Linked DNA regions of Homo sapiens: region 2 is reported to be linked to region 1. Evidence: microRNA targets listed by miRTarBase, many of them from high-throughput screens and not tested one by one. Region 1 holds a microRNA gene; the other region holds the end of a gene's coding sequence.

Region 1 (3,170 bases):
TTATGGCTGAGTAGTATTCCATGTTGTATATGTACATTTTCTGTATCCATTCATCTGTTGTTGGACACCTAGGTTGATTCCATGTCTTGGCCGTTGTGAATAGCGCTGCAATAAACTTGGGGTTTGGATGTCTCTTCACGCCTTTTAAGTTCATGCCTTTTCTGTCACCTTTTCCATTGATTCTATGCACATAGCACCTCTTGCAGGCATATCTTGTCCCATAACCAGACCGGAACACTCATTTGTTCTCAGAATGCTTTCTGCATGGTAACTTGGAGAGCTATTTGAGTTACGGTCTATACCTCATGCTTATATTGGACCTGGTGGTAGCAAGTGTTTCATAAATTCTTCTACTTGGTTAATCTGTCATTTTCTTTTGGAATGAGTAGTTGCAGAGCCACATTAAGATCCTTATAGGCCAGGCACGGTGGCTCATGCCTGTAACCCAGCACGTTGGACGGCTGAGTAAGGTCAGAGGATTACTTCAGACCAGGCGTTCGAGACCAGCCTGACCAACATGGTGAAACCCTGTCTCTACTAAAAATACAAAAATTAACTGGGCGTGGTGGTGGGCGCCTGTAATCCCAGCTACTCAGGAGACTGAGGCACGAGAATCACTTGAACCTAGGAGGCGGAGGTTGTGGTGAGCTGAAATCGTGGCCACTGCACTCCAGCCGGGGCGACAGAGCGAGACTGTCTCAAAAATAACAATAATAATAAATCCTTATAAACCCTAAATGCTGAAAGATGATGGCATTTCCCCATGCGTAATTTAAAATAAAGACAATACCCAGGCTGTGCGTGGTGGCTCACGCCTGTAATCCCAGCTCTTCGGGAGGCCGAGGCGAGTGGATCACTTGACGTCAGGAGTTTGAGACCAGCCTGACCAACATGGTGAAACCCCGTCTCTACTAAAAGTATGAACAATTAGCCAGGTATGGTGGCGGGCACCTGTAATTTCAGCTATTCCGGAGGCTGAGGCAGGAGAACCGCTTGAACCTGGGGGGGCGGAGATTGCAGTGAGCCAAGATCCTGCCACTGCACCCTGGCCTGGGCGACAGAGCCAAACTCAGTCTCAGAACAACAACAACAAAAAGCAAAAATTGCCTATCATTCATGACGGCAGGGGAAGAGTTCCAAGATTTCCAGCTGGGCGGTTGAGACGGTGGACCAGGACAGCAGGGAGACGGACACAGGGAGGGAGCCCCAGTCTGTGGAACACCATCCCACTTACCGTAGCTCCCCACTGGCAGTGTGTATGAGTCTTGGTGGTATCTTGTGTGCGGGTCTGAGCTAGGGGGCGTGGCCCCAGGAGCATCCAAGGTTCTGGTTGGGGCAGCCACAAGGTGTCTGAAGAGCAGCGGGGTTTGGTCGTCCTGGCACTTCCGCAAGCAGCCTTTCCAGCTGTAGCTCCGGAAGGTGCTCTGACATGACAGTTCAAAAACACACTTCCCCCTGGCCTGGGCTTCAACACTCACTTGTCAGAAAGTGAGGTCCTGTATGCCCCAGTCCTCGGCCAGAGAAGCAAGAAGCAGATTTCCCAGAGGCTGTGGCCCCTTGCATTGGTGAGGACACTGGGGTGCTACCTCTGTTTGAGGGGTGACTGACAACTGTGCTTTCTTAGGGTGGAGTTGGTCTGCTGTCGTGACTGTCTGCTTGAGATACTGACCCCTGGCGATCAGATTCTGGAAGTCCTCTCCTGAGGCTGCTGAAGTCGTCCCAGAGGCTTGTCCAGCCACAGCAGTGGAGAAAGATCCAATCAGGCAGGCAGGGGCAAACGGGAAGTCGGGAGGGTACCCTCCCCGCTCCCTGAGAAGTGTGGACTTTCAAAAGGAAGTGAGAAAGAGGAAGGTCTTGCCTAGGCATGGGGTAGACCTGTTTGATGCAGGCGGACTTCAGGGAAAGCTGGTCCTCAGTGCCACAGTGCTGTGGCTGTCGGGCGGCAGGCACTGGCTCACAGCCGTGGTGGGGACGCCTTGTTTCTCGGAAGGACAGAACCGCCCTCCTGCAGCTCCTGTTCCTGGCTTCACATTAGAATTAACTGGGGAGCTAAAAAAAAAAAAAACCTGATGCCCCAGAAATTCTGATTTGATAGTTTCTGCCTTGATGCCTAGACAAAAAATGTCCTGAAACAATACTTCACCTCAGACAATACTGTACATGCTGATGTTTTCTAGTCTGTTCCATTTCATTAAGAAAGATTCTGGTCTTATTCCAGTAAATTGATTTCAAGGCCACTAATGGGTGGTGACCCACACTTTTGAGATGCCTGTTCCGGGCATCACCTCCCACTGCAGAGCCTGGGGAGCCGGACAGCTCCCTTCCCAGGCTCTGCAGTGGGAACTGATGCCTGGAACAGTTCCTGCAGCCGGTCTCCAGTGTGATTCAGGTCCTGCGGCAAGTTCTAGGTGGTCCAAGTGAGGCAGAAGCCTTGCTGGAGGCTTTACCCGTCCACACTGCTGTGGAGCCTCTGAGCCTCCATGGAGGCTCCCCAAGCCAGGCAGCAGGGGAGGAAGCGTCTGGTAGGAGGGTGGAAGGCATCACGATAACTAGCCACCTGCAAGGGCTAAATCTCTCTGGGACGTTTGCACGAGGAACATTCCGAACCCATGAATAGAGGAGGGCTGCGGATCTGGTAGCTGAGGAAATTCAGTAGAAAAGCGAGAAATGTATGCCAGGTGCAGTGGCACACACCTGCAGCCCCAGCTACTTGGGAGGCTGAGGTGGGAGGATTGCTTGAGCCCAGGAGAGTGAGACCAGCCTGGGCAACATAGTGAGATCCTGTCCCTACAAATAAAAAATTAAAAAATTAGCTAGGTGTGGAGGCATGTGCCTGTAGTGCCAGCTACTTGGGAGGCTGAGGTGGGAGGATTGCCTGAGCCTGGGAAGTTGAGGCTGCAGTGAGCCTTGATCGTACCGCTGCACTCCAGCCCGGGCAACAGAAAGAGACCTTGTCTTTAAAAAAAGGAAGAAGAGGCTGGGCACGGTGGCTCACGCCTGTAATCCCAGCACTTTGGGAGGCTGAGGTGGGCAGATCACCTGAGCTCAGAAGTTCGAGACCAGCTTGATCAACATGGTGAAACCCCATCTCTACTAAAAATACAAAAAAATTAGCTGTGCATGGTGGTGGGTGTCTGTAATCCCAGCTACTCGGGAGGCTAAGGCAGGAG
Region 2 (3,000 bases), not on the chromosome of region 1:
ATTACTGGGTGTCTTTTTTATGTGCATTTTTAGATAATAGAAGTGAATATTCGTAGAGTGCTTTGCAATTTTTAAAGGAGAAATGACAGGGGCTTATCATTTAACATTTTTTATGCACCAGACATATTGATACTAAGGTCACACAGCTAGTGAAATGACCAGGGCAGTATTCAGCCTGGAGTTAAACCTGTGCTCTTAAGTGGTGGGTTACCTTGCCTGCCAAGTCTATCCTGAGAGGCTTGTGGGTGCTAGTCACTGCTATTCTTCTTGTGTAGATGATGGAGCAGAAAAGCCAAGTCACAGGCTAAGGAGGGGTAAAACTAGGAGTGGCTCAGAGTCCTGTGTGGTTTCTGTGTCTTCCCGTGATAATGATATTCCCTCACTAGTCCTGTGAGCTAAATTCACATATGAAGAAGGAATCTAAGTGTCTTTTCCACTAAGTTAGCTAATCGGTCTGGTGTGTGTGTGTGTGTGTGTGTGTGTGTGTGTGTGTGTGTGTGTGTGAAAGAGAGAGAGAGAGAGAGAGAGTGTTGGGGAAAGGGAAAGAGTGTAATTTACCATTGGTTTTTTGGTTTTTTGGTTTTTTGTTGTTGTTGTTTTTTTTTTTGGGTGGGGGGGAGTTTTACTCCTGTTGCCCAGGCTGGAGTGCAATAGTGCAATCTCAGCTCACCGCAACCTCCACCTTCCGGGTTCAAGCAATTCTCCGCCTCAGCCTCCTGAGTAGCTGGGATTACAGGCATGTGCCACCACGCCCGGCTAATTTTTTGTGTTTTTAGTAGAGATGGGGGTTCCACCATGCTGGTCAGGCTGGTCTCGAACTCCCGACCTCAGGTGATCCACCCACCTCCCAAAGTGCTGGGATTACAGGCGTGAGCCACCGTGCCTGGCCGGGGTATTTTTATATAACAAACGCCTAGTAAACATCTATAGAAAATACACAGATGAGTGAATCGTGGACAGAGTTTACTATTTGTATGGCTGGTAGTCCTAAGCTTCAGGGTGTCCAATTAGAGTTCTGGTATTACAAAGTGGAAGGGAGTGTGCTTTTAAATTATGTATCAGTACTGTCGTCAGTGCCTTGGTCTGGGAGCAAGAAACACGACAAAGGAAGAAAGACTGTTTGAGTCCCCTCTCGGTAATGTTTTAATGGCAGAGTCTTACACTTGGGAAGTTTCTTCAGATGGTTAGTTTTGATGTTCTTAACTCGGGGCATTTGGTCTTCTAGAGTTCCTTTTGGAAAGAATGTGATCATTAGTGAAGTTTGAGAGTGAAATGGCTAATTTGTCTTGCTGCTTATAACAGGGAGAAATCTCTTCTTAGCCTGAAGCCATTGAGACCCTTCAGAAGATTTGTAGCAATCTCTAGCGTTAAGGAAAAATCCAATGTTTGATGAAAAATATTTAACTCCTGAATGTGTCGTTGTTGGAGGTTGATCTAACAAGTTTGCAAACATATTGTTTGTGCAGTTAATGCAGGGAAGTGTCTAAAATATGTGGTTCTGCTAAGTAAATGGTTCTCAAACAGCCTTCCCTCTTCCTGCTCATAAGGTTGAGTGATGAGAATCTTTTTCTACTTTGCAAACAGACTAATATAATTCTTACTGAGTTTTCCTCCCATCTTTCTTTACCCTTTGATATGACTGCCTTCAGCAGATGGTAAAAATATATGAAAAAGTAATGAACAAACATTGAAAGCCTGGAGATGTGATTTTCCTTTAAATAGTTTATGCATTATTTTTGAGATGGAGATTTTCATATTATCTATTAATATCTTTTTAAAGCACCACCATTTCCAAGTGTTTACTATATTTCAAAATCACTCTACTAAGTGTCTTTAAACTTTTCTCACATAATCTTAATTTAAGCGCATATAAATGCAGAGGCCCTCATCACTTACTCTGGATGTTCTATAGATCCAAACAGAATGGGAAAGTTCTCTGATTTTTTAATCATTTATTCAGCAAATATTTGATTGTTTTCTATGTGTCAGGCACTGTGCTGGGCACAGAAGATCCCATAGTGAAGAAAACAAAACCAAAGAAAAACACAATCTGTGTTTGGAGGCCAATGATAGAGTCAGAAATCAATTAAATATATAAATACACTAGTCCCCACTTATCCAAAGTTTCACTTTCCTTGGTTTCCATTACACATTGTAATGTCTCCTCAACTCTTGACTCAGGCATGACTTGAACATTTCACTAGTTACTAAGCGAAAATTAGTGGTATACTATAAGTATTGTTTTTATCCCTCTGGTGCCTAGCGGAGCATCTGGCACATGGCTTACTAATTGCTCGTTAGTTTAGTTATTGACTAATGGAGAGACAGAAACACATGTGGTAGTTTTTAATGGCCCACTAGGATAAATAACAAACTAAATTGAGATAATAGATAATAATCTATGAGTTCAAGATTGAGAAAGATCAACATGGGTTTGTATTTTAGAATTGAAATAACCTCCTACATCATCAAATTCTTTTCATAAGTAAATTGAAGTTGGAATGGTTCAGTTACTTGGCTGGGCTTAAACAGTCATTGGTAGCAGAATTGCCTTTTCAACCATTTTTATTTTTCTGGAAAGGCTTTGCAGCAGGGCTGAGAGTTTATATGATCTGTGGATGTATAGTTTTGGATAAGTAGAGAAGACAGCATTCCAGACCTAGGGTCTGAGTTAACTGCAAAGTCAATGTGAATAATATGGCTTCTGAAGATAATGAGGAACATTTCATTGAGGAACCTTTCATGGTCAAGTGTGTCTGCAAGGGTGTGAGAATTGCATGGTGTGACTGTTCTATGGAATAATCAATGAACTCTGTTGCCTTTTGACTTCTTTTTACTTTTTCTTTTTTTCGAAATACCTTGTAGCAGAATGGTAAGAGCACAGTTTCTGGAGCTAGAATGCCTGGTAGCCTTGGGAAGTTACTTAATCTGTGCCTCAATTTTCTGATCTGTAAAATGTGAATAATATTGTGCATATCCTCATATTTCTGGTTCCTTAAG

Evidence for each region. The annotated mature microRNA hsa-miR-3155b reads CCAGGCUCUGCAGUGGGA and lies in region 1 at 2,325-2,342, shown strand. An mRNA with a match to its seed (bases 2 to 7 or 8) in the 3' UTR can be bound and repressed. Matches are read on the target gene's strand: a 7mer-m8 pairs with bases 2 to 8, a 7mer-A1 pairs with bases 2 to 7 and ends in A, and an 8mer does both.
Region 2: miRTarBase lists PBOV1 as a target of hsa-miR-3155b. Seed matches in the 3' UTR shown: 7mer-A1 at 803-809.

Annotation. Positions count from the first base shown.
Region 1 is chr10:6,149,923-6,153,092 of GRCh38, forward strand. MIR3155A (microRNA 3155a) reads left to right here and starts at 2,274; the gene lies at 2,274-2,355. It overlaps MIR3155B (microRNA 3155b), which reads right to left and starts at 2,340; the gene lies at 2,285-2,340. It also overlaps a transcript of PFKFB3 not described here. RefSeq lists an enhancer at 1,644-1,693.
Region 2 is chr6:138,215,385-138,218,384 of GRCh38, forward strand. It overlaps PBOV1 (prostate and breast cancer overexpressed 1), which reads right to left. Exons shown (of 1, transcript NM_021635.3): 1 at 602-3,000. The coding sequence ends at 2,604. The region is part of intron 4 of ARFGEF3 (ARFGEF family member 3); the gene reads left to right. Among named protein-coding and RNA genes, the nearest start is that of PBOV1, 1.6 kb to the right of the region's middle.